7 linked regions of the Homo sapiens genome follow. The protein of the gene in region 1 purifies or fractionates together with the protein of each later gene. This does not show direct contact. Each region holds a gene or a part of one and is shown in the gene's direction. Other genes may lie near its edges. The genes, in order: RMND5A, ADCYAP1, TENT4A, WNK1, MYO6, WARS2 and HNRNPUL2.

Region 1 (4,364 bases):
GTTCCACTAACCCATTTAATTCTTCATAGCTTAGTTTTTTCTTTCTAATCATTTCTCAGTTCTTTCTCCTTTTTGAGACAGGGTCTCACTGTCACCCAGGCTAGAGTGCAGTGGCATAATCATGGCTCACTCCAGCCCCAACCCCCCAACCTCCCGCCTTAGCCTCCTGAGTAGTTGGGACTACAGGACTGTGCCGTTATGCCCAGCTAATTAAAAAAAATTTTTTTTTGTAGAGACAGGATCTCACTATGTTACCCAGGCTGGTTTCGAACTCCTGAGCTCAAGTGATTCTCCCACCTCGGCTTCCCAAAGTGCTGGAATTACAGACTTGAGCCTCTGTACTTGGCCATTTCTCAGTTCTGAGAAAATTTTGTGTAGTTCTAAAACCAGCCCAGATGACTAGACAGAAATTCCTGTATAAATTTATATAAAATTCTTGTATAAATTATAATAGATCTCACTTAAGAACTGTATCTCTGTGTAAGATGCATATTACCTTTGTAGAATTTGTTTAAGCAAATTTCAGATTGTGACACATCTGGGAGATAAATTCAACCAAATACCTCTAACACCTCTTAAACAAAATATGGCAACAACTACTTTTTTTTTTTTTTTTCCCAAAGAGACAGAGTCTTGCTCTGTGGCCCAGGCTAGAGTGCAGTGGGATGATCATAGCTCACTGCACACTCTCAAACTCCTGGGCTTAAGTAATCCTCCTGCCCCGGCCTCCTGAGTAGCTAAGACTACAGGTGCACACCACCACACCTGGCTAATTTTTAAATATTTTATAGAGACAGGATTTCTCTATGTCGCTCAGGCTGGTCTCAAACTTCTGGCCTCAAGTGATCCTCCTGGAGCGTCAGCTGCCCGAAGTACTGGGATTATAGGCATGGGCCAATGTGCCCGAGAAAGCCTACATACATATATGAACATGTAATGGGTTTCCCAGTTGTTTTATAGTGATTAGCAAATAATATTTGGGTTGTTATTCAAGGTAATATTCACTTATCTATGCGTTTCTTAGGTTTTTTCATTAAACTTTGTTCATATGTGCTAGTCATGTACGTACTATGACTATATCTGTAGTCACTGGCACATAGTATTTGCTACCTTAGCCTTCAGAGTACTCCAGACTTTTCTCCTAAGAGCCTTTTAAACTTTGTGCGTATATAAGATATGTTTCTTATTGATAAGCATGTTATGTATATTGATTATTTCTGTAAATTTTGTCTATTATTTGTTGCCTTAAAACAATTCCTCTCAGGCAGAGAGAGGACTTGTTCCATAAGTAAAAATTTTCTCATTTCATGTTTCTGGGAGTAGTGTTTAATATCAGCATGAGGGAATGTAGTGGTAATCATAGTTAACTCTGCTTGAGTGGTTATTGTATGCCTAGCATCGTTCTAAGCATTTTACGTGTCTTAACCTATTCAACCCTCATATTAACCTATGAGGTAAGTCATCTTACAGAGAAGCAATTAGGGCCTAGAAGATCCTCTGTGAAAAAAAGTCAAAAGATTATATGAGAAATGCTTTACATAATAGTCCCCCAGTATTCTCATTTGAGGTTCATTTTAACTTATTAAGTGTATCATCAAGCCAGGTGCAGTGGCTCACACCTGTAAGCCCAGCACTTTGGGAAGCTGAGGTGGGCAGATCGCTTGAGCCCAGGAGTTCGAGACCAGCCTGGGCAACATAGCAAAACCCTATCTCTACAAAAAAATAGAAAAATTAGCTGGGTATGGTGGTGTACGCCTGTAGTCTGAACTACTCAGGAGGCTGAAATGGGAGGATCACTTGAGCCCAGGAGGCGGAGTCTGCAGTGAACCAAGACCACACCACCACTCCAGAGCCGAATCCTGTCTCAAAAAATAAGAAAATAAATAGAAGTAAAAACGTACCATCAGTAATCCTACAGTAAAGAAACTCATTTAACTTGGTATAACCCAGTGTTTTCTCTGTGTATTTGACCAATCTTGTTTTCCCTCCAGATAACACATTTAAAACCCATAAAATTGGAGTTATACAAAACATAAGATTTAATAGAAATCGTCATTACAACAATTCAGATTTTTCCAATTCTTGCCTATTGTGGGTGCAGAGCAGATACTGACTAAGCATCTTTCATGAGCTAGGTACAGAAAATTCCCTTTACTCAACTTACAGCAAAAGTTGAATGATATGGGACTCCAATTTGGGGAATTCTAGTTAAGGTACAAGGCGGGAGATATCTGCCAGTTATGCAGCATCCCATTTGTTCCTGCTGGGAAGGATATCATGGAGCTCACAAGGGAAAAGAGGAAGGAGAGGATGCAGCAATTCCTCCAGACTGCCTATGCGGTGAGAAGGCAGAGGCCAGCCAAAAATTTGAGGTGGCTAGGCCGGGCACGGTGGCTCATGCCTGTAATCCCAGCACTTTGGGAGGCCAAGGCGGGCGAATCATCTGAGGTCAGGAGTTCAAGACGAGCCTGACCAACGTGGAGAAACCCCATCTCTATTAAAAATACAAAATTAGCCAGGTATGGTGGCGCATGCCTGTAATCCCAGCTACTCAGGAAGGCTGAGGCAGGAGAATCGCTTGAACCCGGGAGGCGGAGGTTGCGGTGAGCCAAGATCGCGCCACTGCACTCCAGCCTGGGCAACAAGAGTGAAACTCAGTCTCAAAAAAAAAAAAAAAAAAAAAAAAAAAAAAAAAGTGGAGGTGGCTAAAGGCCATTGAGGGCCTAGGGGAATGGTGATATTGTGGAGAGAAGTGGCAGAACAACACCTGATTACATAGATCTAATCAGGACCTTGCCTGCTCCTGTGTTCCGTGCCCTTGTACCTCTGAGTTTGTACAGATTTTCCCCCTCATCCAGATTTCTTTTATGCTCACCCAGATTGTTTTATTTGCTTTTTGAATTTCTCTTGGCGCCTAGAGTAGTGCTTACCTCATAGTAGGCCCTCAATGAATAACAGTAATCTGCAGGAGAATTTAGAGCAAACTTGTCATCCTCTTCCATGGTGGCAGATAGAAAGCCAAAAATAGTGTTAACGAGAGAATAGTAACTTAATACAACGAGGTGGGGGAAATATTAGAAAAAATAGGAACTGTCCTTGTAGCTATGCCATTATTAACATACATATTGAAAGAAAGCACTATCTTTAGGGGAAGCTACTTGGTTGCCTTCCTAAACGTGTCTCAAAGAGTAATACTACCTTGCTGGATTTGCCACAGTCTAGTATCTGACTTTCAGCTTTGCAGACTTGGAAACTTGTTTTTGGTGTCCTTATTTTGTTTTGTTTTCACTAAGAACAGGCCTTTAAAAACGATAAAAACCTGAATTGCTAAGCTGCGTACATAGTTTGGATTATTAGGGGCTGTGAAACAAGCTTGTGGTAGGCAGGTCCATGTGGAAGGCACATGAGCTTGCAAAGCCTGGAGTTGGAACAAGAGGAGATTGTTCTAGAAAATGTTCAAAGTTCTCAGGCTAAAATGTCCTGATGCCATTATGTCCACCATGGAGGTTGTGTTGCAGAGCCGTTGGGCAGTTCAGACTTCATTCACTGACTCCTTTTCTCAAAATTGTCCTTGGCTTGCCTTGGTCGAGTTTTGAGTCAGCATTAAGTATCCCAATAGGTAATAAATAAGAGTACAAAATCAAAAGGCACAACAAGATAAAAATACAGTGAAAAGTAAATCTCCCCACCTTTGCCTTCTAATCACAGTTACTCTCCAAACAGGCAGCCACCATTAACTGTATTATGTATACGTACATTTTTATGCACAAGTGGTTGCATACTATACACAGTGTTCTGCTTTTTACTTGAAAAATTTTGAAGTATTTGCCTATATCAGAGCATATAGAACTATTTTTTTTTTTTGGTGGCTGCTTAGTGTTCTCTTTTAGGGATTATACCTTAATTTTATTTAGCCAGTTCCTATGGATGGACGTTTGTAGTTTCCGATATTTTGCTTTATAAGTGATGCAGCATTGAATATCCGTTGCACATTATTTTGAGCATGCCTGCTAGATATGTTGTCCAATATGGTGACCACTCCTATGTGTAGCTCTTACTAATCTCTGCATTACTGAGAACCTCATGTAAAAGGGTGTGTGTGTGTGTCTTAAATAGAGTCAGATATGCAATACCATAGTTTGTGTGGTTTCTTAAATAGCATGTGAAAAGGACAGAGACTCACACCAACTCTGAGATGAGTTTAATGGTAGTAGTTCCAGCAGTGGACTCAGCCCATAGCTGAAAAATTACCATTTGAAAATATCTAAGAAATGAAACACTGAGTGTTCTTTTCAGTCTCTAAAGCAAAGTTACAGAGTTCCTCACTTTTTTGACTGAACTTTTTGTCAGGTTTGCCATTCTCT
Region 2 (3,265 bases), on another chromosome or scaffold:
GTCATCGCTCGTGTGTTCTATCCAAACATGTATTTATGTAATGAAGTAAAGCCATTAAATGAATATTTTGATAATAATATTGTTTTTCTTTCTACAAAGCACTAGAGAATGCACAGATATACTTTGTGGACCAATTATTGATATATATTATAAATATATATAAAGAATATATATATATATATATATATATATATATATAAAGTATAGAGAGAAGTTCATACAAAGCGTGCACAAGGATTGAAAATTCGCCCGAGCTGTTTATGTTTTTATAAAAATAAATAGAAAAGTAGACAATCATTGTTTTGAATATTACTCCTATTTTTGTAAACTGGAATTAAAAGGATAGTATTTTTATCCATGACAGGCCTGAAGATATTACTACTTACCATTTGCTACTGTACATAAACAATGATGCCCTGCTCCAGGGAGATTTTGAGGTAAAGATATGGAGAATTGCTGAAGGGCATTCTTTCCCAGTGAGTCTCTGGGGCAGGCTGCTTCAATCCCAGCCTAACTCAACTGGGCTCTGTCCCCCTGGTTGGGTGGCAATTCCAATATTTCTGCTTTCTTTGATTCTCCTTTTATGTGTAGTTGTCTCTCTTCAGACTCTCAGCCCAGAAGAAAATTCTCCTGATAAAACAACAGCTCGATCCAAATTGTGCTTCTCCCCAGAATTCACGCCTCTCCCTAGGAGAAGAGTTGAGGAACTGTACAGAAAAGGGCGGCTTCGTTAGACCGCTCTCTTTTCTGTACTTCCTGAGTGGCCAGGGAATCTAATATCCCCAAATTAGGGCAATTGGAACAAAGTGAAGGACATAGAGGTATATTGGAAGAGGCAGAGCCTGAGGTGGTAGGAGGAGGACCCTGGAAATGGACTGGTTTGAGATTGCCCCAGGTCTGGGAAGCTGAGGGCAAATCCAGTCCCAATGGTCCTGACTTTGGGCGCTGGGTATTGGAAATGGATGCAAAGTACAATGTGTTTTTCTCCAGTGCTGTCCATGCTTCTCATCTTGTGAAATGGCCAGGATCCTCTCCTTTGAAACCTGCTCTGTAGGAGCTACCCTTTTCCTTTGTGGTTTTATGGAGACCTCTCCTTCCTACCCTCCTGCACTGTTTAAGTACTGTTTACCATTTTTCATTCACTTCTCTTAAACTTGTGAATGCTTCTCACTTTTTTTTTTTGTTTGATGCAGGCACTTATTGTAAATTTTAGAAACCCCTCTGTAGCCACTAGTAAGTAATTATGCACTAAATATGAACCCTTTGTTTCTTGTTTATTGAGTTTGTAGGTAAAATGTATTTTTCTACATTATTGCTTATTGCTTAGTAAAATTTATTTCATAAAACCAACCTTTGTCATATTAGAATGTGTAGTGTTCACATGTTGCTCAGTTTTGCTAACTGATAAATCATTTAATCCTCTTCTTCATATGTATGAGTACTATCTTATATCTGTGGTCAAGAGTGAGGTAAGCAAGCTCCAACAGACCCTGAGAACCTACGCTTGTATCCTTTCTTTGGCTAAAGAAAGCATGTCTGTTTCCTGTCAATTCTTTGAACATACAGAGTAATCTTTATAAACAAAAGAACCTTCACCCAGCAATCAGATCGAGCAGCAACAGACAAACCAGCCAGCCAATCTCCCAAATTTCAGGCACAAGTTTATTTATTTATTTTTTTATGTTTTGAAAAAAGAAGATGAAGAAGAAGAAAAAAAAAAGAACAAGGAAAGATTAAACGTTAGCTTGTAAAGTTTAAAGGACCTTTCCTTTTCCTTTACGGATTTGATCAGTATGAAGTCATAAATCAAAGAAAACAGAATTGGATTTGCATTCCCAGGCGGGATGGATGCTGCCAGGAGATCACATTGCAAATAGTGAAAACAGAGGCATTCGGTCTATGCCTGAGTCCTGTGTATAGGATCAATCTTCCTTTAATTCCGCAGTCTCCTCAGGCAATGTGACACGGGATGCAGTTTGCAGCTTTAGTGCCTTTCTTCGCCTTTTAAATTGCCACGAATCACAGATGGCTATTTAGTGGCCCTACAATGCTGCAACACATCAGCTTGCATTTTAGTCTTAATTATTTGTTTCTTGGATAATGGGCAGAGTTTTCTGTATTTGTATCAGCTGTTAGTGGTGAAATAGGGCTCTAGTTAACCTTTTATTTATGAAGTCTAATTTAGTGTTCCCGTGGCTAGTTGCAAGCATTTTACAGTGATCACCCAGTTTAATCTTTTGTATACTTTTTAGAAATGCCAAGAGCCTTACTAAACTGAAGCAGATTTATGATATAGTGATAATTTAGGTAGATGTTAGTCTTGAAGCTCTTATTTTGTGTGCAACTGATTATAAAAACACCTTAACCAAGTATTATTACACACATGATATCTATAACTAGGACTTTGATAACTGTTATATAAAGTGTGTAAAATTTGTATGAATAAATTTTTGTAAACAATGCAACTTGGTCTAATGTTTGGGAAAAAAGACATTCAGGAAATAATTACTTTAAAATCTCTTAAAGTATTATATTTCTTTAGCAACCATAAGATTTTTTTACGTCTGGAATATATATCTATCTAAGCACCCTTGTATTTTCATGAACTGCACTTTAATAATTGATGGGCAACTGGATTCTGCTAAAAATTTAAAGTAGCTACTCAGATGGAGATGCCTAAGAAGGTTTTAAGCTCATAAACAGGCATGATGTTGCAACATTATAAGACACACAATTTAGATTAATTTCCATCCCCTAGTGTGTATATACTTTGCTCAATATTCAGAAAGTTACTAGGTAGTAGTGGGAGACAATGCTGGAGCATTAGTTACACATCTAAAATAGCAATCTAACATTGTTCTTTTATTTTTTATTTTAGTGGCCAGGTCTCACTATGTTGCCCAGGCTGGTCTTGCTCAAGCGATCCTCCCACCTCAGCCTCCCAAAGTGCTGGGATTACAGGCGTGAGCCACCACACCCAGCCTAAAATAGGGATCTAACATTGTTCTTATACAAGTAACTCTGCAGACTAAACTTGTCTTGATAAAATTTTGTATAAAATGATCTAAATAATCAGTTTTTGGAGGTTTTAAAATGTGTTTAGAGACATACAAACTACTGTCTCTGATTAAAATGCTTTAGGTAGAAGGAACGTGAACATGAGTAAGTAAAGAGTTAATTAGATGCCTTTAAAAGAAAATGTACTTTGAAGTCCAGGAAGAAACACAAGAAGTCATTTGTGGATTGTATGCTTTCTTAGTTCATA
Region 3 (4,921 bases), on another chromosome or scaffold:
AAGAGTGGCATGAGATGATTTTTAAAATAGTAACATCTTTTTTGTTTTTTAAAAAGGATCACACGAGCAGCTGTGCAGAATGTGGGAAACCAGCTAGAAGGCACTGCTTTAAAATGGACGGGTGGCGGGGAAAGAGGGGTGGAGGGAGGAGGAGGGGTAGCAGTTGGGTTCTGGTTGTTTCGGGCAGTGGAGCCAAGAGGATGTGTTCATTGTGGACAGAGAGAGGAGCCAGGCATGACCAAGGATTTTGGACTGAGCCATTGGAAGCAAACAGCTCCAGAATAACGGCCGTTTGACTTGTGTGTGATTTTCTGTAGTTTACTGAATGCACGTTCTAATCCTTGGTCATGATTTCCACGTGTACAATATGAAGGTATTTGAAAACGTCTGAAACATTCATTTTCATTACTAACCACCACCACTTGCCCCAAAGCCTTTGTATGCAACACACGGACCTTTCCTGTTGGGGCGATGTTTGAAGGGTCAAGTGCTTAGTAATGTCTACTCATCTGTGCTGGAGACGAGGGGGTAGCATTTACAACACGCCTGTACGAAGGCCAGGTCCCGTTCTACTTAAAAGGCTTGGAGCCCGGGCGCCACTGGGCTAAGGCAGCTTCAGGGCCCTGGCCCGGGAGTGCATTTGCGGGGACTCCGCCTGAAGACAGGGCGGCAGCCGCGGGGCCTCACGTCGCCCAGGCTCGCGGGGCACCGCGATGATCAACGACACTGGCGTTTGCTTTGGACCTCACAGGATGTGTGGTTGGCGCTGTATTCCAAACAGTGCCACTGTCAACCCGGCTTCCATCGCGCTCGGGACACCGGGATGGCAAACGGCAGGCTGTGGATGGCGGGCGGTTTCCCACTGACTCCTGCCCGCTCGGTGCAGCTGGAAAAACCGAAGCCGGGGGCCGGACGCGCCGCCCACCAGCCGTTCCTCGGCTAGCACTGCCCATTTTGCCCAGGGAATTAACTTGGAAGTTTTCACTTCACTTTTCGCATAGAAAATCATTTTAAAAAGCAAACCAAACGCCTGTAAGCAGACCCGCTAGGGAGCAGGACTCTGCCGCGTGTCCTTCCCGGCTCCGGAGCGGCGGAGCCAGCCACCCGGCACGGCACGCTGGCCGCTCACCCCGCGAGGTGCAGGGAGCACGTGGGCCGACGCGCGGACCCCAGAGAGCGCAGCGTGACCTGCTGCACGGACCCTCGGATGAGAGACCTGGGGCGGGATCTGCGACCGGGGCCCGCCCTTACGTCAGGAGGGAGGGCCGGCCGGCGGGGGAAGCGCCTGCGGTGGCGTCCGCTGCCCCCGCCCGGCTGCTCGGAAACTTCCACCGGCGGCGGTGACGGCCACGCTGCCCTGCGCACGCGCAGCGCGGCTCAGGCGGCAGCCCGGTGACACCGGCCCTAGCGCGCATGTCTGCACGCCGGGGTCTGCGCGCCGCGGCGGGCCGAGGGCGGCGTGCGGGCCTTCCAGCCGCTGCCTATTCCACCCAACGCCGGCCTAGTCAGTAATGGCTCAACGCCACCGCCTCTCCCTCCAGCCCCTCCCAGTCGCGTAGCTTCTGACGCCGTCCTCACCCCGCCCGCGGCCGACGGGGCCCCAACGCGCAGGCGCGGTAACCACGGCGGCAGTGTCTAGTGAGGATTTGAAATCGGTCGCGCGTGCGCACCGGCGACACGGCCCGGCGACCGAGGCCGCGCTTCCTCCTGCCGCCCCCGTCCCCGCCCCCTCCCCCGCCCCTCATTGGAGCGGACGCGGCGGCGGCCCCCTCCTTCCCCCGCGCTGTCGCCGCCGAGAGTGTCTTTTCACCGCCGCCGCCGCCGCCGCCGCAGGAGCGCCGAGCCAGCGGCGCGAGCGTGACTGAGGGCTAGCCGCACGGGCGGCGGCGCCTCCCGCGGGTCCTTCAGCCGCTCGGCGCCTGGGCCCGCCCCCTCGGCCCCGCCGCCCGCCCTTCTCCGATGGCCTCTCCCCGCGGCCCGAGTGGAACGCCGCCGCCGCCGCGGCCCCCGCGCCCGCCCCGCGCCGCGTGAAGCGGGAGCCCGGAGACCGCAGCCGCCCGCTGGGACGCGCCAAGCGCCGGAGCCGCCCGCCGCGGCCTGCCGGGGCCCATCACCGCCGCCGCCGCCCCACGCCGGAGCCCGACGGGAGCGCGGCTAGAGCAGGAGGCCGGGGCTCGGCCCGCCCGCCGCCGCCGCCGCCGCCGCCGCCACCGGCCCAGGCCCGTCCGTCCGTCCGTGCGCGCGCGGCCGGGCCTCGGGGCGCGGCGGGGGCGGGGCCGCGTCGGGGCGGGCGGGCGCGCGGGCCCCGCGGGGGCGGCGCGTGGATGGATCCGCGCGTGGCCTGGATCCAGCCCGAGCAGAAGGGGCCGGCCAATGCCCTGTGGATGCAGATCTGGGAGACCTCGCAGGGCGTGGGCCGCGGCGGCTCGGGCTTCGCGTCCTATTTCTGCCTCAACTCGCCGGCGCTGGACACGGCGGCCGCGGCGGGGGCGGCCGGGCGGGGCAGTGGCGGCCTGGGCCCCGCGCTGCCCGCCGCGTCGCCCCCGCCGCCCGGCCCCACCGCGCCCGCCGCGCTGCCCCCCGCGCTGCTGACGGCGCTGGGGCCCGCGGCCGAGGGCGCGCGGCGCTTGCACAAGTCGCCGTCGCTGTCGTCCTCGTCGTCGTCCTCCTCGTCCAACGCGGAGTCGGGCACCGAGAGCCCCGGCTGCTCGTCGTCGTCCTCCAGCAGCGCCTCGCTGGGCCGGCCGGGCGGCGGCCGCGGCGGCGCCTTCTTCAACTTCGCCGACGGCGCGCCCAGCGCCCCTGGCACAGCCAACGGGCACCCCGGGCCGCGCGGCCCCGCGCCCGCCGGCTCCCCGTCGCAGCACCAGTTCCACCCGGGTCGCCGGAAACGCGAGAACAAGGCCAGCACCTACGGCCTCAACTACCTGCTGTCCGGCAGCCGCGCGGCCGCTCTCAGCGGAGGGGGCGGCCCCGGGGCCCAGGCGCCGCGGCCCGGCACCCCGTGGAAGAGCCGCGCGTACAGCCCGGGCATCCAGGGGTGAGTGCGCGGGGAGGCCGCGGGGGCGGGGGCGGGGCCCATGGTCCTGGCCGGCGCCCGCGGTGCAGACACCCGTCCCAGGCGCCCGGGCTTTTGGAGGATGGATGTTGAAGGCTAAGGCCAAGGCCCGACTCTGCACTGAAAGTTTTTTTTTTAAACATCAGACTCATTTATCGTGGAGTGACTTGCCCAGATCCTACAAGTAACAGTCCAAGAAAAGGGGCTGCTGGGTAGGACCTGCAGGTATTTGTCTTTTTTACTCTTGAGATTGGAACGGGAAATCGACTCTCTACCCCTCCACCCCGCCTCCGGGCAAGTGAGGAACCCCTTGTCAAAGTGGGGCGTAGATAAGTGTGGAGTTTCACGTAAGTTAAGTTGCAGAATAATTTAGCATTGCCAGGAACTCGAATCACGTCGAAGGTAAATATTAACCTTTTTAATTTCATTTTTTAAAAAAATTTAACTGTCAACTTAGAGGTGATTCATTTTTTGGGGGGTGTTGTGTCCTTTAATTTTGTGCTGCAATTACCATAAGCATCGCCTATGGTTTATAAACATTGGCTTAATTCAAAGAAAAAACCAGATTTGTCATATATGTCTATTCTTTGGAAGGTGCCATTTTTATTTTAAATATTTCTACATCCGCCTAGAGGGAATTAGAGGCTCTACTTAAATTTAGTGCACTTACAGACGGCAAGGAATGAAACGAAAGGTGGTGTGTGTTTCGGGGTTGGAATTGTCCCAGGTGAGGCTGTTCAGGTGTGATGCTGTTGACGCAGCCCCTTTGCCATTTTGGGCTTTTCTGAGCGTCTGGAAGCAATTTATGTGTAGGTTGTATGTCAGTATTTTAAGACTTAAATGATAATTTTTCCTTGCACAATTTTTCCCCCCAATTTAAAAAACAATTAAGGATTTGCTGGGGTATGAGGGTTGTTGCATGCAGTAGAGTCCTACAAATAACCACAATTGCTAGGTGTTGGGAGTTCTTATAGTAAACTTTTGCTTGTAACTCTTTTTCTCATTTGAAGTATGTTGGGAAACACGAGTTGATACTTCTTTAAAGCGTGTGATACACTGTAATAGCTGCATGTTCTGTAACTTATTTCACCTGGCTTGGGCTACAAGCGATACCTTCTAAATTTCCCGAAGTGTAAACATGCAGTGCAGACGCCGGCAGGAGCGCAGACTCCTCTTCTCTCCCTCCAGTTCTTACCTGTAGAACTTTCTGAGAGCAGGTGGTTGGGAGCAGTTTCTTCTTGATGAATAGCAATATATACCTAAGGGCTCGCTTGGGGAGGACCTTTAGGTTTCCAGCCTGTTATGTAACTGGAATGGACTCCGTTTCTCTTAGCACTAGAAAAAACAGGAAGACACGTGGTCTCTGCCAGTCTTGGGTTGTACCTCTGCTCTTAGAAAGTGGTAGCGCATCAGGTCCCATGCACCTCACTTGGGCTCCCCGAGCTGTTTCCTCCAGGTAACTCTAGTCAGGCTCAGTAGGTGGTGTTGCTTTTGTTAGTGAATGAGCCCACTAGGATCAGGTGCTGTGCTAGGATCTGGGGATCTGGGGCAGGGACGGCATGGGAGACACAGTCTCATGATCTTGACCCACCCTGAAACCTGCCTGCAAGTGCCCCCTGCCTAGAGCACAAGAGTACCCTGCTCAGTTGTGCAGGTCCCCTCTCACGCTCTTCGTCACCCACGTCCAGTCTCTCATCACATGCTGTTCGTTTGGCCCTTTTAATCTCTCCACACCTCATCCTCCCTCATGCAGGCTCTTGTTACTTCTGTGGAGATTGCTCAAGCAGCCGGAGGTGCCTTTGATGCACTCTGGTCCTGCTTGAGTCCTTTCCCATCACAGGTAATGGGGCAATCTTCTCTGCC
Region 4 (4,364 bases), on another chromosome or scaffold:
TAAAGCACTTAGTCTAATAAAGATCAAAGCCCAGCATCTGCAAGTGAAAATTCTCCTTCTAACATGATTTCTGGGATTTTGCAGCTTTCTACTTAAAAACAAGGCACAATAGCAAGTCACCCCATCTTCCCCATATGTGAAATGGAGATGATGCCAGTGTCCTAGGGCCATCGTACAAATCAAGCTAAGATCATGTACAGAGAAACAGGTAGCGCTTGAAAAGCACTCATGGTTTCTCTCTGATGAGTCAGTGCCTACCTGGCACAGAACAGGTAGTCAATAACTGTTCGTGGAAGAACAGTTTAAAACAAACAAAAACATAGTTCAAGTAGAAAAACCTTTGTTATAATTTGAATAAAGATCTTCTCTGTTAAGGCCTCAAACTTCTGATGTGATTATTGAAGTGCTTTTTACATGCATGTGCTCAGGCCATCACTGTTTCTGAGTATGGGTCAGAGGCCCTTGGGCCTCTTCACGGTGGGAAGAATTTACAACCTCCCTTTGTTCTCTGTAGTGACTAGATTTAAAGCGAAGCATATGACACGTTTAACTGCCATTTCCCTCACACATACCCCTGTTATTTTTACCTGCATTAGAAATGGATTGGCTCCTTCCAGCACCCCTATTATTTGTACCTGTATTAGTAATGAGTTAGCTGTACTTGAGAGGCAGTCTTTACTGACTTTCCCCACATGCACTAGTCCCAGGCTGTTTAACAAAGAAGCGGGTGGAAGGCATTACCCAATTCGATCGTTTTCCAGGCTTGTGTGATTTTTTTTTTGAGGACTCAGATCAATAATTTTTCTGGTCAGACTTTCCTGGACTGTGCATATTAGCACTTTGACAGTTGAATAAGCATTTAATTTGCATGTCCACCTAGAAAGTTGCAAGGGGGGTGTTTTTGAAGTAGAATGTGACATGTCAGGCCTATGGTCTACAGCCTGAAGTGTCTGAGAGGGAAGAAAGAGAACCAAAGCTTCTGTTTCTGAAATATAATGTGACAAATACCACTTTAATTAAATTCCATAAATTCTCATCCCACTTTTAAAGGTAGGTGGTATTACCCCTGTTGTTCAAATGAAAGTGGTCAGAAATATTGAATCTTGTCACTTCCCTTTGGGTGCAAAATGAAAGGCCCTACATCCTTAGAAGTCACATCAGGATACATCATGTAAGCCTGGTAAACAAATCCCAAGAGACATACTTGAAATATGGAAAGGAAACAGGTACTTGAAAGAGTAGGGCACCTTACTAGCTTGAGATGTATTATTCTATGCTCTCAAAATAGATAATGGTTTGGAAGCACGGCTTGGCTTACTGCTATATTTATGTTCAGAGGTTGCTTGTTTTCCACGTACTTTTAAAAACTATTCTGGAAGGGAAGGGGTTAGTATATATATGTGGGATGTGGAAATATAATAGCCAATTTAAATGAACTTAAAGCTGTAACAGTGATACTATCAGTCTACTGTGGTGGGGTTGCTAATGCATTTAACTGAGTGCTTTTTAACAGCCCAGCTGGAGAAACAGGAAGTGGGACAGGATCAGTGGAAACGCTGCTTGGGTATTTGAAATTCAAGCAGTGAGACCTGAGAGACTGGAGTTCCTCGCCAATTCCAGAACCTCAGTGCAGGGCATTACTCTTTTAGATACAAAGATTGGGTGTAGAAACTCCACATCTGTCAGCCACGTAACACAGCCCATCAGATAATCATGTTAAGGCTAACAGCCAGTTCGAAACATTCTGTAGAACTATATCTGTTCAAGGGCTACCAGGTCCTACCTATCTGTCTCACCTCCTGCTTTCTCTTGCTGGGCGTTTGTGTGCTGTTTGGAGATTCTAAATATTTTACACTGATGTTTCTTTATCTTTAACACATTGCTTCTCTCTTTGTGCTTCAGGGAAGATGGTGAAAAAAGTCTGTCCTTGCAACCAGCTCTGTAGTAATTATCTTTTCTGTTATTTTTGGTCCTTGATTGCAAAGCCTGTTAACCATGAGTTCTTTCAACTCTGCAGTCTCATAGCTCCCTGATTCCTAACTTCCATCTATCTCTGTATCCTATTCTAATAAATATTTAACATGCTTAATTGAGAAATCATCTCCTAGTCGGTGCCCTCAGTGATAACCCCATGTGAGCCTAGCTTGTGACAGACATGGATTGGTAATGGCCATGGGTATATATAGGGAGGTCAGGGATGCCTAGTTCCTATGGGAGAGCGATCCTTTGGTCAGCAAATATGTGCCGGGCAGTGTTATTACCCCAACTGGAAACTCAGCAGTGACGAAAGCATACAAAAGTCCATGCCCTCCCACGTTCACACTGAAGTGGGAGATGTGTGCTAGATTGACGAGGAGAAAAACACCACTTTCTAGAGTTTGTCTTCTTAGACTGTGGCTTCTCATACTTTAATGAGAAGGCCACTTACAGTGTTGTAGGTAGGGTCAACAGGGAAATTCTGTACTTGGGATGTTGGGCTGTAAGTTATGGTTCATAATAGGTTATTGTTAGTAGGATCTGGTGATGTGGGAATAGGGGAAATGTATTATAATGGCAGGAGGAAATTTAAAAATGAATCTTGGGGGTAAGTCTATACTACTTATTAGGGCTTTTCAGAAGAACTAAAAAAGGTTAAGAAGTTAGCATATTCTCTCAAAGGCCTTTCTACATCTTTTATAGTCAAGTCTCCTTTTCTTAGGAGTTAATTTCTGGTCAGAAAATGATAGGTTTGTTTCATTCTTTAATGGGAGGCCTGTATACAGAAGCCAGAACGTGAAGGTTTAGCTGTATGGTTGACTCTTCCTCATGGTTTCTCTTTCCTCATAGAGAATCCTGTATTAGGTAATGTAGGGTAAAATGAAAAGTGAAATTTCGTTCTAAAGGGGCCTCGCAGCATCAGGGGCGACAGACTAGAGAGGTGTGTCTCCCAGCATGAGCTCTGTGGATAAGCAATGGTCACGCCTCCTGAGCTTCTTGTATTTAGCTTTTGACAGCTCTGCTCCCCTGTGATTATTTCTGTTTTTTGTTTTGATTGTCTCTCACATCAAGCTCACCAAGCAATAATTGTTCAAACAGGATGACAATCCCCATGCATGTGATATGCTTGCTTTCTAGATTGAGTCACTCACTGTCATGACTGCCCATCCTCATTGCCTGTGCTTCCCACTTCACCACTCTCTCACATTGGCTGTTCATGGAAGGCTGTTTTCTGTGCTCTCATGCTTCTCCCCTCGCGTTTCCTGTACTGTAGGGAGCTTACTCTTCCCTTCACACTGTATGTGCAATAGCAATCCCCTTGTGGCTCCAGCAGACACCAAGAAATGAGCTGACACTCACACTGCAGTAGTTCCGTGTCTTGCCATAGCGGTAAGAAGCATGTGACCTTCCTCACTGCAGCTTCACCTCAGAATTAGCTGTTACTGCAGCACAGACCTGCTTGTGTGTGCCATTCCCCAGGTGGTAGGATATAAGCTTGACTTGAGACCAGCGATGGTCAGTAACAGGCTTTGAAGTGGCAGGATTGCGTTAGGTGTGCTGCTGTGATCTGGTGCTGCTTTGACCTTGAAAGCAGGATAACGCATGCACTTACTTACCCCCGCATTACTTGGGTACCTTAAGGACTAGTGGTTCACAACTTACTTTAGGAGCTTTTATTTATTCTGTAACACGTGAGATCTGGTAAGACAGTGGGGGGTAAGGAAAACAGACAAGACCATGACTCTTCTTTCCCTCTTCCCCAAAACGTGCCTCTTGGAATAATCTTCAGTGTGCCCTCCAGCAGAGCCGAAATCAGGCAGGCATAGACTCCCTCCTCTCTCATCAAACCGCAGAAATAGAGTTCCTTCATCATAACCGCAAAGCTTCCTCCTCCCCTTTGCACCCTGCCTCAGCTGCATTTTCTTGTCGCTTCTACATGGGAGTGCTTGCTGTTCTGGGAAGAGTGGGGAGAAGCGGTGGGAATCCTTGAGCCAATTGAAACTGAGGTCATCTTCAGGAAAACCATGTCTTCCTGAAGTTGAAAGATTCAGGCACACCATACAGTCCTTTCCTCATGAATAATCTTGTTCTTTACTCATGGGAAATTGGGAGAGGTTAACCCCTCCCAAGTTTATGTTTGCAAATTCATGTTTATGGGTCCAGGTGAAAAACTTTTCTGAACACAGCATGCTACTTCTCTTATTACCTCTCTCTATTTAAAGAATGGCTAGGCTGAGCATGGTGGCTCACACCTGTAATCCCAGCACTTTGGGAGGCTGACATGGCAGGATTGCCTGAGCCCAGCAGTTCATGACTAAGCAACATATGGAGATTCTGTCTATATAAAAAAGTAAAAAATTAACTGGGTGTGGAAGTGCATACGTCTA
Region 5 (3,500 bases), on another chromosome or scaffold:
ATACATTTTTACAGTTCTTATCATAATATACATTTCAATTTCTATCTCTACCATTGTTATATACTTGTCCATGTTAATACATTATCTTCATAGATACGATAATGTAATTAATTTTGTGAAAATAGCAATTTCCTCTCCAATTTTGTAGGAAAAAAATGGGATCCCTTATTTTGTTTTGATTTTTATTTATTTGATTACTAGTGGAGTTGAAGACTTTTCTATATGCTTGTTAATTATATTTCATATTTCATTAATTACATTTCATATCTTCTCATTATATTTTAGAGTTTTAATGCTTTTTCTCAGTTTCATAGGTCAGTGCAAGTATGTGGGATATAATGAATATCTTAAAGTGAGCGTTTTATATTTTCTGCAGATATTTTATGTAAACAATGGCAATCTTGGAGGTAGAAAGGAAAAAAAAGATCTGGAGGAAAATGAAAATGCTATAAATAGACTCAGCTGATTTTATAAATCTGTCAAGGGCCATCTTTGTTTATGTGGTATCATTATAAATTAAAATTAACCCACCCACATTTTTTGAAGGCTAATTTTAGAAATCCAATAATTTTGGATATATTTTGTAATTTTTAAAATATTCTCTAGGTACTATTTGAACATTATTCTAAAATAGTAGTAAACTATTGCTAAATTAGCTGATCATTACTTAAGAAATAATTCTTTTTGAGATAAGAGGCTTGCTCTGTTGCCCAGTCTGGAGTGCAGTGGCATGATCTCGGTTCACTGTAACCTCCGCCTCCCGGGTTCAAGCAATTCTCCTGCCTCAGCCTCCCGAGTAGCTGGGACTACAGGTGTGTACCACCATGCCCAGCTAATTTTTGTATTTTATTTTTATAAGAGACAGGGTTTCACTATGTTGGCCAGGCTGGTCTCGAACTCCTGACCTCAGGTGATCTGTCCACCTTGGCCTCCCAAAGGGCTGGGATTATAGGTGTGAGCCACTGCACCCGGCCTAGAAATAATTTTTAACTGCAGTATATTACCTTATCCACAGATTACCTGTCTAATTGATGTGTAATACTTGTGTGCAGAGATAACATAAAACATTTTTTGAATAGTATTTAATGTACAAACAGTATAGTAAAGATAACGGACGTATTGCTTACCATCTTACCTAGTTTTTGCTGTATTTGCATATTGGAGTAGTTTTTTATTTTAAATTGTAAAAAACAATAAAAACATTAAAATTTATCTTAGCCATTTTTCAGTTTATAATTCAGTATTGTTAAGTATATTCACATTGTTGTGCAACAGAAGAAATAAGCTTTTACGTACCTATTTATTTTATTTTTTAAAGTCCACTATGATGACGCAGGAACAAATCCAGAAAGAATATGATGCACTGGTTAAAAGCTCAGAGGAACTCCTCAGTGCATTACAGAAAAAAAAACAGCAGGAAGAGGAAGCAGAAAGGCTGAGGCGTATTCAAGAAGAAATGGAAAAGGAAAGAAAAAGACGTGAAGAAGACGAAAAACGTCGAAGAAAGGAAGAGGAGGAAAGGCGGATGTGAGGCATTTATATTATTTTGAATAAGAGACTTAAAGAAATAGTGAATTCTTGGTATTGACAGTGGTTAATGACAATTATTTGTTTTGTTTTGTTTTTGTGACAGGGTCTTGCTCTGTTGCCCAGGCTGGAGTGCAGTGGCGCGATCTTGGCTTACTGCACTCTGCCTCTCGGGTTCAATCGATTTTCCTGCCTCAGCCTCCTGAGTAGCTGGGATTACAGGTGCGCACCACCACGCCTGGCTAATTTTTGTATTTGTAGTGGAGACGGGGTTTCACTATGTTGGCCAGGCTGGTCTCAAACTCCTGACCACAGGGGATCCACCCGCCTCGGCCTCCCAAAGCGCTTGGATTACAGGCGTGAGCCACCGTGCTCGGTTGACAATTCTTAAAACTGTGTTCTTATTTTAATGAACTAATTTTGTAATAAGTTTGAAAATTGAGAGAATAAGGTCATTTTATAATAGTGATACCATAAAATAATTTTAACTATAATCTGAATTTGTTAGCCTCTTACACCTGAGGATTTTCTTCTTTTTAAAACTATGATTTGTTTATTGTTTTCTAAGCTAGATAAATGACACTTCTACTTTTCTGCAGTTTTAAAACTGATAACATTTTGAAAGATTGCCATGATAGGGTAGAGAGAACAGATGAGTTGTTGACTTGGAGAGGGACTAGAGGGAAGCACCTTTAATCAGGACCTTACAGCCAGGCTTTGTAACCACATTCATCTAGAGATGTTAAAAGTTATAGAATATAATTATATTTGTTTTATTTAAGAATTATTGTCAATAGAGTTAAATTTTATTTTATTCAAAATAAGTTGATGTATGTGGCCAGGAGGTTAATTTGCATTCCCAATCTGTTACCTTTGTTTATTATTAAATAATAGTTAAATTGCCTTCTGAAGGATTCTTTATTTTCTGTTAAATTTTTGAAGAGTTTTCTATTTTTTATTAGGAAACTTGAGATGGAAGCAAAGAGAAAACAAGAAGAAGAAGAGAGAAAGAAAAGGGAAGATGATGAAAAACGCATTCAAGTATGTACTTACTGGGTTGAATTTCTATTAAAATGGAACCTACAGGCTGGGTGTGGTGGCTCATGCCTGTAATCCCAGCTCTTTGGGAGGCCGAGGCGGGCGGATCACGAGGTCAGGAGATCAAGACCATCCTGGCTAACATGGTGAAACCCCATCTCTACTTATACGAAAACAAATTAGCCGGACATGGTGGTGGGCACCTGTAGCCCCAGCTAATTGGGAGGTTGAGGCAGGAGAATGATGTGAACCCAGGAGGCAGAGCTTGCAGTGAGCCAAGATGACACCACTGCACTCCAGCCTGGGCAACAGAGCGAGACTCCATCTCAAAAAAAATAAAAAATAAAAAATAAATAAAATAAAATGGAACCTATGAAAGAAGTGAAAATGAGATCTTGATTTGCTAGATAAGCTGTCACTAGTTTATCCTAGAGACCAAAGGCCAGTTTTTGAAGTGGTTATGGGAATGGACTTTGGAGCTAGGGAAGTGGGTTCAAATCCAAGATCAGTCACTGACAGAAATTGTGACATTGTACACATTATAGTGAGGAACTATGGGTCACAGTTGTCTCTCTGTAGAATGTGGATAAATAATAGTTGCAAGCATTTGACAGTTAATACATGTTAAAGCATTGTGAACACTGTGTAGATCAATAAATATTAATAATTGTTTTTATACCTAGGGGAAAGTCAAATGAAAATTCACTTAAAATGTTAAGTTTTAAAATATCATATAACTTTGTAGATACTGGAATTAATAAATTAGGATTAAGAGTCTCTCTCCACCCCTAGTTTTTAAAAAGTCCCATGTTGAGAATAAATTGCTCATGTATTTGAATTTCTGTTTGTCATGGCTTTCATAATATATCCTAAGCATAACCAAAACTTTAAATTCCTGACATCTGCTCTCTAGGTGTTAGTGTTAATGGGATGCC
Region 6 (4,364 bases), on another chromosome or scaffold:
GAGTTAAACCATAATGAGATTCTACCTCATTTCCATCAGATTAGCTAAAAATAAAAAGACTGCTAATACCAAGTGTTGATGAGGATATGGAACAACAGGAACTTGGTAGAAAGTGTATAATGTTACATACTTAGGAATAGTTCACTATATTGAAGTACTACAATTGAAGATACGTATACATACCTTATGACTCGGCAATTCTACTCCTAGATATATACACTAGAGAAACTTGGCTCATAATACATTAAGATACCTGTATAATAATGGTCTTTTTTGTCCCTGTAATTTTTTATTTTGCAAATTTTTAAACTGACTGAAAAGTTGCAAAATTAATACAATGAATATAATAAAGTCTTAATAGATGGTAGCTAAGCAAAGCATAGTAGCTAGTAGAGAGAGCATACATGGGCTTTGAAGTCAGTGATATCTGGCCTGAAACCTCAACTCCACCACTTACTAGCTGTGTGACCATGGGCAATCTAGTTAAATCTGTGAGCCTCACGTCTCTCATCTATAAACTGGAGGTAATAATATGCCTACCATATTAGGTATTAAAATGATTAAATGCATTAATATATGTAAAGCACTGGGCATAAATGCTTGCAACATAGTTGTTCAGTAAATTATTGCTGCTATTGTTTTGCTGTGGTGGTGGTTAAAAATGATAATGATGCATTATATTTTCTCAGGGCCTTTTAGTTACAGTATATTTATTGATACATACTCATTTTTGGTTTTTCACTATGGAATGTATTATAAAATAATTCAGGGGAAAAATAGCAATTTTTTTTACTTTGTATTGCATTTTTTTTCTTTTCATTTTCCTATTATGACTTCAGTATTAGAAAGTACAAACCAAAGGGAAAATATGACCAGAGTAAAAATGCTTTTTATAATTTAAATAATTATGTAGAATTAAAATTTCCTTTTGAAGAATTGAAAACCCAAATATGATTTTATTAAAAGTAAAAGGAAACCAAGGCATAGAAAATGTAAATAACCTTATTAAGAAGTAATATTAGAAATAGAGTGTATGTTTTCTAATTTCTAGCCCAAGATCTCATACACCAAATTATAATATCAACAATATAAAAAAATCTTAAGGCAATAGTAGTAGCCTTTAGCACTAATGCTAAGGCCTTCATTTCCTTAACTGCAAAATAAATTAAATGACATGAAAAACCCTTGAGGCCCCTTTAATCTCCAGTGAAATTTCATTCTATGTCTGAAGGCTTCCTCGTTGACCACCAAACCTCAGTTATCTTTTCCTCTTGGGAATTCCTCTCTGAACCCTATTCTGTATCATTCCAAACTGGTCATGATCATGTTACCATGTTATACCTTTACTTATCTTTTCATAAACAATACCCTCTATCTCCAATTAGATCACATGCTCTTGGGGATGCAGATCTTTTCCTTTTTTTTTTTGAGACGGGGTCTCGCTCTGTTGCCTAGGCTAGAGTGCAGTGGTGCAATCTTGGCTCACTGCAGCCTCCACCTCCCAGGTTCAAGCAATTCTCCCACCTCAGCCTCCGGAGTAGCTGGCATTAAAGGTGTACCACCACGCCCAGGTGATTTTTGTATTTTTAGTAGAGACGGGGTTTCACCATGTTGGCCAGGCTGGTCCCAAACTCCTGATCTCAGGTGATCCACCCTCTTCAGCCTCCCAAAGTGTCGGGATTACAGGCACGAGCCACCACGCCCGGCTGCAGATCTTTTCTTATATGTCTTTGCATTTGTCCATGTTTGAGTGCAAAAACATTTTTAATATCATTTTTTTGTGCCTAGTAGCACCTAGCATAGTGATTTACAGTGTAGGCACAAAATAAATGGATGATGATGACTGTCAGATTGTAGTTTACAAAAATATAACTAGCTCCCATAGCTATGATAACATGGGCATAGGATTCATGGGATTCTGCCTCAAAAGCAAATATGCTTGTTTTCCTTTGTTCCAGAAAGACAGCAAGAAGCGAGTATTTTCCGGCATTCAACCTACAGGAATCCTCCACCTGGGCAATTACCTGGGAGCCATTGAGAGCTGGGTGAGGTTACAGGATGAATATGACTCTGTATTATACAGCATTGTTGACCTCCACTCCATTACTGTCCCCCAAGACCCAGCTGTCCTTCGGCAGAGCATCCTGGACATGACTGCTGTTCTTCTTGCCTGTGGCATAAACCCGGAAAAAAGCATCCTTTTCCAACAATCTCAGGTCAGCTTCTCAGATTAGAACTGAGAAAACTCTTATGTGTAGATTATTTGAGGAAAAAATGTTGAATGGTTCATACAGCCCCTGCTCGTGATTTTTAAAAAGTGTTTGAAGGTGACTTTTTCAAATGTGATTTTTTTCAGCTTAATGTTTTACTTGTATTTATATCATTAAGTATCATTATATTGCAAGAGTATTTTTCAGCTTTTCCTCCACTGTATTCGGTAAGTTTATGATGCTTCATATACCAAGAATTGTGTTTCATTAGTACTTCTAGCCCTGGAATTGTTTTGCTATGCTGGGTTGCTTTCAAACTGATTACTTTGTGTTGTTGACTAATCTCCTTGTGATCAAGGATAGAAGTTAGTGACCAATAGTTTTATGTAATTCCAATGTTGCTTTATTAGATGTTCTATTTAGAAGGTCTGTTGGATGATTCCCATTGTTCATTCTTTTTATAATAGTTTTTGAGAAGATTTGATAGCACAAGTTGGGAAATTGGAAGACAAAGTCCCAGTGTGTTGTGTCTAAGCCAAGAAAGGCTTCATAGTAAAGCCAAAATATTTGACTCATATCTTCACTATGGATGAATCAGTTTATTCTTGGACAGGCCGATAGTCTGGCCTAGAGACAAGGCAATCAAGATACACCCTAGAAAAAGATGAAAATTCTAACTAGATCATGCCTTCATTATGTATCTGCTTTAACCTTAGGACAAAGCCCAGCCAAGGAATGGTATGTTATACATGCTATGGTACATGTTAACATGCATGTATATATGCAACCTTCCTTGATTGTACATTTCTATCATTATTTTTATATATGTTTTGTTATACATAAAACTTAATGTAATGATTCTTACAGAGCAGACAGTTAAAAAATATGTGATAAACGAAAAGAGTATAATGATCCCTTGGCATCCAAAGAGTGTTGGCTCCAGGACCACCAAAGCTACCAAAATCTGCAGATGCTCAAGTTCCTTATATAAAATGGAATCATATTTGCATATAACCTACACATACTCTCTCGTATACTTTAAACCATCTCTACATTACTTATAATAACCTAATACAATATAAATGCTATGCAAATAGTTGTTATACTGTATTGTTTTTTAATTTGTATTATTTTTCTATCGTGGTATTGTTATTTTTTGATGCCTAAATACACACTGATTTCATATATATGTATATATATACACTAATTTTTTAAATTTTTAGAGATTAGGAAGGTGTATGTGCAGTTTTGTCACATGGATATGTTGTGTAGTGGTGAAGTCTGAGCTTTTAGTGTACCTGTCACCCAAATAGTGAACATTGTACTCAATAGGTGATTTTTCAACCAACATCCTCTTCCTGGCTTTTGGAGTCTCTAGTGTCTGCCATTTCTCTCTATATGTCCATGTGTACCTATTGTTTAGTTCCCACTTATAAGTGAGAACATGCAATATTTGATTTTCTGTTTCTGAATGATTTCACTTAGGGTAATGGCCTGTATTTCATGTTGGCCTCCATGTTGCTGCAAAAGACATGATTTCATTCCTTGTTATGACTGTGTAGTATTCCATAGTGTATATATAGTGGCGGTGTTATTTTTATTAGTTGTTTTTTCCTAATATTTTCAATCTGCTGTTTGGTTGAGTCCATGGATGCAGAACACACAAATTCAGAGGGCCAACTGTATGTTTAAAAAATAAATGCAGTTATCAACTTTGTTGCCAGCTTGTAGATAATTTGATAAAATAATAGAATCTGATCTTTAAAAGGACCATAAAGTCAATTTACCTCAACTTCATTCCTTATAGTTGGTCAGGAAGGCTTTGCTTACACATGACTTTTCAAATTCAGCGTTGGACAGATCCAGTTACTATAAAATACTTGCTTTTACTGACCAAATATCTACCTCCATATAGTTTCCATTCATTCATTTAATTTCTGCTCTGTAAAAAACAATAAATCAACTCTGTTTCCACACAACTGCTCTTCAAATACTTGGAAAGACATTTATTATGTACCATTTGTATCTTACCCCGTAGGTCCTTACTGTATAGGTCTTGCCTTCTACAAACTAGCTGTCCCTGGGTCTCTCGCCTTCTTGGTCATCCTATCTCAAAAGCACTCTCACCTTCTTTCTGAAAAGAATGTGCCTGGA
Region 7 (4,364 bases), on another chromosome or scaffold:
GGAAAAGTGTTACAAAATATGTACTAACTGCCTACCTTAAATCTAGATCTGACAAGAGTCAAAATTAAATTAACCTTTGAGGTTTTCTTAGAGACCTAGAGGATATTTTTTATGTCATATTGATGGGGAAATCTGCAAGTTTGACCTGATTTAAGTGGATAAATTTAGAATGCAAAAATTGTCCAATTTTTATCTAGTGCTTGACTGTAATTAGCCCATAATGCCCCTTTTTAAAAAAATTAAATCACAGCCAATGACAGAAAGCTGATCTTTAGAAATAAAATGTTATGTGAATGTAGTGGGAATAACCTGGCTGTTTTGATCAGACAGATTCTCAGATTCCCTGTTAGTGTCTATTAGTTGTGAGCTTATTCTACACTCCAGTATGAAAACTGCTGATTTTCTTTCCCTCGTTTTTGTAGGAGATGACCAGGATAGTGAAAAGTCAAAACCAGCAGGCTCAGATGGTGAGCGGCGGGGGGTAAAGAGACAGCGGGATGAGAAGGATGAACATGGCCGAGCTTACTATGAATTCCGAGAGGAGGCTTACCACAGCCGGTGAGGGAAACAGTCCCTTTCGTTGAAGGGAGTGTCTGCTCTGATTTTGGTATACCTGGTATTGACTGGAGAGACTGGAAGGAGGGTGGATTCAAAATGGAATAGGTTTTTATAGGCATGAGTTTTAGATTGCATCTACCATGGAAACTCCTATTGCCCTTTCTCATTTATTGGAAAAAGCTGTCTGCTGGGATTTGATATTCACTGACAGTTTAAAATGGACATAATGTCATACACACACACCCCTCAAAGAAGAGGGCTTTGTTTACATTGTGTTTCTTTTCTATCTTACATATATAGCTCAAAGTCTCCACTGCCTCCTGAAGAAGAGGCAAAAGATGAGGAGGAGGATCAAACTCTTGTGAACCTGGACACGTGTATGTATAAGGCAGACAGACTGTGGTTTTTAACTAATCTCCTAAAAGTGATTTTGGAGATTAAAACTTCATAGCCTATAAATTCTATGAGACTTTGTATCCACTACAACAACTGGTATACTTATGCTCTGTTGGCGGCTTACAAGTATTGGACATTGGAGTAAACTGATTGCTTCTTTCTTTACAGATACCTCGGATCTGCATTTTCAAGTGAGCAAAGACCGCTATGGAGGGCAGCCACTTTTCTCAGAGAAGTTCCCCACCCTTTGGTCTGGGGCAAGGAGTACTTACGGAGTGACAAAGGGAAAAGTCTGCTTTGAGGCAAAGGTAGCTCATTAAGACCATTCATTCATTCATTCATTTATTACTGGATGCTTACGGTTCTTAGAGGGGGAAAAGAAGATTATTATCTCTTTTTTTTTGAGATGGAGTTTCGCTCTTGTTACCCAGGCTGGAGTCCAGTGGCACCATCTCGGCTCACCACAGCCTCTGCCTCCTGGGTTGAAGCGATTCTCCTGCCTCAGCCTCCCGAGGAGCTGGGATTACAGGCATGCGCCACCACACCTGGCTAATTTTGTATTCTTAGTAGAGATGGGGTTTCTCCATGTTGGTCGGGCTGGTCTTGAACTCCCGACCTCAGGTGATCCGCCCGTCTTGGCCTCCCAAAGTGCTGGGATTACAGGCATGAGCTACCGCACCTGGCTGGGGAAGAAATATTTTTTTAAAAAGACCGTTCATTTATTCATTAAGCTACTACCTATGTATACTGGACTTCTGTCCAATCAGGCTTTTATTAGTGCAGGTAGGTAAAAGCACTGTGCTTTAACAAGAACCTTAGTTTCAGTAACCAAGAAATTGATCCCTGTGGCTTTAAGTTCAGTGATTGTTATTCTGATGTTGAGTTGAGGTAAATGTCGTTTTCAGTTTGTATAAAAATCTTGTCCTTCGAACTCAGAGTTTGCTACTCAGTTGGTCACAATATCTAATAGTTCCCTTTCTGACTTGGCCAGGTAACCCAGAATCTCCCAATGAAAGAAGGCTGCACAGAGGTCTCTCTCCTTCGAGTTGGGTGGTCTGTTGATTTTTCCCGTCCACAGCTTGGTAAAGTTATTTCTTTAAGTTCCTCATTAGTGTTTACTACCATATTGCTTACTCTATGGGAAGTCCGGTTGTAGGTAACTAATTTGTTGACTGTTCTAGGTGAAGATGAATTCTCTTACGGTTTCGATGGACGAGGACTCAAGGCAGAAAATGGACAATTTGAGGAATTTGGCCAGACTTTTGGGGAGAATGATGTTATTGGCTGCTTTGCTGTAAGTGCTCCTGAAAGTTGTGGGTTATAACAAGGAGCGGATAGAGGGCACTGGGAATTCACTTGTGCTTCCCATCAACTGCTGGCTTTTATGCATGTGATGTGTGTGGCTCGCTTAGTTACTTTGTGCAGCAGTCTGTGTGAAAAAAGAATAAATTGTAAAGTTTAATCAACCCAAAGCCTCGTCAGCCAATAAGTGCTCTTGTCCCTTGTCATTGTAGAATTTTGAGACTGAAGAAGTAGAACTTTCCTTCTCCAAGAATGGAGAAGACCTAGGTGTGGCATTCTGGATCAGCAAGGATTCCCTGGCAGACCGGGCCCTTCTACCCCATGTCCTCTGCAAAAATTGTGTTGTAGAATTAAACTTCGGTCAGAAGGAGGAGCCCTTCTTCCCACCACCAGAAGAGTTTGTGTTCATTCATGCTGTGCCTGTTGAGGAGCGTGTACGCACTGCAGTCCCTCCCAAGACCATAGAGGAATGTGAGGTATGCCAAACAGTATACGAACACTGAGGTTGTATGCTTTGCAGAGGTGGGTGCGTATGCTCTCCAGGGTCTCAGAGCGTTACCAAACAGGAATGGGAGGATGTTCTTAAATTGGTTTTGATAAACATGACCCTCATTTATTTTTCATTATATTTCTGGTTCTGTTTTTTGCAGGTGATTCTGATGGTGGGACTACCCGGATCTGGAAAGACCCAGTGGGCACTGAAATATGCAAAAGAAAACCCTGAGAAAAGATACAATGTCCTGGGAGCTGAGACTGTGCTCAATCAAATGAGGGTAAGTTGCTGTTGGGGATTTGTCGGATACAGTATTTGGAGACTCTTATAACCTATCTTTAATGGAGAATTAGTCTCAAGTGTCTGAGAACAAGGGTCCCAGAAATAGAGAAATGAGATTTTTCTCTATGCGTTTTAGGTGGATTGATTTTTTTTTTCTTTGCTGTGTTGTCAAATTTCTGAAAGCAGATGAGATCTGAAATACATCCAGGTTAAGACTAGATAGAAATGACTACTGCAGGAAATGGACAACATTCACAGCACTGAAGAATGGGAATAGAGTGATATCATAGATTCAGTATTTGAAGAGGTGACATTTACCAATAACTCTTGGGCTTTAACTTGCAATATAACTTGTGTTTTGTTTTTTTTTTTCACTTCCTCTCAAACTAATCAGATGAAGGGTCTCGAGGAGCCAGAGATGGACCCCAAAAGCCGAGACCTTTTAGTTCAGCAAGCCTCCCAGTGCCTTAGTAAGCTGGTCCAGATTGCTTCCCGGACAAAGAGGAACTTTATTCTTGATCAGGTATTAATCTGATAAAATTGCCTAGAGTCAAGGTGGGATGTGTATATAAAGAGAGACTGAATTAAGGAGCAGAGTCAGCTTACCTAATTATGACCATCTGGTTGTGTGTTATGGTTGCAATGTTTTTTGAACTCAGAGGTACCCCTAATTAGTGTTTTTACTTGAAAATATATGGACCCAGGCTATAAAACATGTAATAAAGACAATGGAAAGAGTTGGAACTCATTTGAATTCCTGGCTCCACCACATTCTGGTTTGTGATCTTGGATAAGTCCCTTATCCTTTCTGAACCTCAGTTTCCCTGATGAGCAAAACAGGATAATACCTGTCATGTAGTTTGAAAAGTTAAAGAAGATCATGTGTATTGACCCTTTATCTCGTGTCTAAGTTGTCAAAGATACTGAGTCTTTTTTTTTTTTTTTTTTTTTTTTGAGACCGAGTCTCGCTCTGTCGCCCAGGCTGGAGTGCAGTGGCGCTATCTCGGCTCACTGCAAGCTCAGCCTCGTAGGTTCATGCTATTTTCCTGCCTCAGCCTCCCGAGTAGCTGGGACTACAGGTGCCCGCCACCATGCCTGGCTAATTTTTTGTATTTTTAGTAGAGACAGGGTTTCATCGTGTTAGCCAGGATGCTCTTGATCTCCTGACCTCATGATCTACCTGCCTCAGCCTCCCAAAGTGCTGGGATAACAGGATTATAGGCGTGAGCTGTCACGCCCGGCCTTTTTTTTTTTTTTTTTTTTTTTTTTTTGAGATGGAATCTTGCTCAGCCGCCACCCAGGCTGGAGTACAGTGGCGTGATCTCAGCCCACT

The links.
Region 2: the proteins of RMND5A (region 1) and ADCYAP1 purify together in Homo sapiens (co-immunoprecipitation; one large-scale study listed by IntAct). This does not show direct contact.
Region 3: the proteins of RMND5A (region 1) and TENT4A purify together in Homo sapiens (affinity purification with mass spectrometry; 3 studies listed by BioGRID and IntAct, with this or other methods). This does not show direct contact.
Region 4: the proteins of RMND5A (region 1) and WNK1 purify together in Homo sapiens (affinity purification with western blotting; 2 studies listed by BioGRID, with this or other methods). This does not show direct contact.
Region 5: the proteins of RMND5A (region 1) and MYO6 purify together in Homo sapiens (affinity purification with mass spectrometry, with the first as the bait; one large-scale study listed by BioGRID). This does not show direct contact.
Region 6: the proteins of RMND5A (region 1) and WARS2 purify together in Homo sapiens (affinity purification with mass spectrometry; 3 studies listed by BioGRID and IntAct, with this or other methods). This does not show direct contact.
Region 7: the proteins of RMND5A (region 1) and HNRNPUL2 purify together in Homo sapiens (affinity purification with mass spectrometry, with the first as the bait; one large-scale study listed by BioGRID). This does not show direct contact.

The regions. Positions count from the first base shown.
Region 1 is NC_000002.12:86,754,513-86,758,876, forward strand, and holds part of RMND5A (E3 ubiquitin-protein transferase RMND5A), read left to right. Parts: intron 1-4,364.
Region 2 is NC_000018.10:909,708-912,972, forward strand, and holds the end of ADCYAP1 (pituitary adenylate cyclase-activating polypeptide preproprotein), read left to right. Parts: 3' UTR 1-2,465; downstream 2,466-3,265. UniProt on the Homo sapiens protein: PACAP is a neuropeptide involved in diverse array of physiological processes through activating the PACAP subfamily of class B1 G protein-coupled receptors: VIP receptor 1 (VIPR1), VIP receptor 2 (VIPR2), and PACAP type I receptor (ADCYAP1R1).
Region 3 is NC_000005.10:6,711,660-6,716,580, forward strand, and holds the start of TENT4A (terminal nucleotidyltransferase 4A), read left to right. Parts: upstream 1-1,772; 5' UTR 1,773-2,324; coding exon 2,325-3,040; intron 3,041-3,089; exon of another isoform or gene 3,090-3,460; intron 3,461-3,482; exon of another isoform or gene 3,483-4,921. UniProt on the Homo sapiens protein: Terminal nucleotidyltransferase that catalyzes preferentially the transfer of ATP and GTP on RNA 3' poly(A) tail creating a heterogeneous 3' poly(A) tail leading to mRNAs stabilization by protecting mRNAs from active deadenylation.
Region 4 is NC_000012.12:902,551-906,914, forward strand, and holds part of WNK1 (serine/threonine-protein kinase WNK1), read left to right. Parts: intron 1-4,364. UniProt on the Homo sapiens protein: Serine/threonine-protein kinase component of the WNK1-SPAK/OSR1 kinase cascade, which acts as a key regulator of blood pressure and regulatory volume increase by promoting ion influx.
Region 5 is NC_000006.12:75,888,739-75,892,238, forward strand, and holds part of MYO6 (unconventional myosin-VI), read left to right. Parts: intron 1-1,318; coding exon 1,319-1,527; intron 1,528-2,489; coding exon 2,490-2,568; intron 2,569-3,500. UniProt on the Homo sapiens protein: Myosins are actin-based motor molecules with ATPase activity. Unconventional myosins serve in intracellular movements. Myosin 6 is a reverse-direction motor protein that moves towards the minus-end of actin filaments.
Region 6 is NC_000001.11:119,074,202-119,078,565, reverse strand, and holds part of WARS2 (tryptophan--tRNA ligase, mitochondrial isoform 1 precursor), read left to right. Parts: intron 1-1,958; coding exon 1,959-2,216; intron 2,217-4,364. UniProt on the Homo sapiens protein: Catalyzes the attachment of tryptophan to tRNA(Trp) in a two-step reaction: tryptophan is first activated by ATP to form Trp-AMP and then transferred to the acceptor end of tRNA(Trp).
Region 7 is NC_000011.10:62,720,485-62,724,848, reverse strand, and holds part of HNRNPUL2 (heterogeneous nuclear ribonucleoprotein U-like protein 2), read left to right. Parts: intron 1-422; coding exon 423-558; intron 559-858; coding exon 859-935; intron 936-1,122; coding exon 1,123-1,262; intron 1,263-1,945; coding exon 1,946-2,036; intron 2,037-2,135; coding exon 2,136-2,248; intron 2,249-2,468; coding exon 2,469-2,732; intron 2,733-2,906; coding exon 2,907-3,029; intron 3,030-3,425; coding exon 3,426-3,554; intron 3,555-4,364.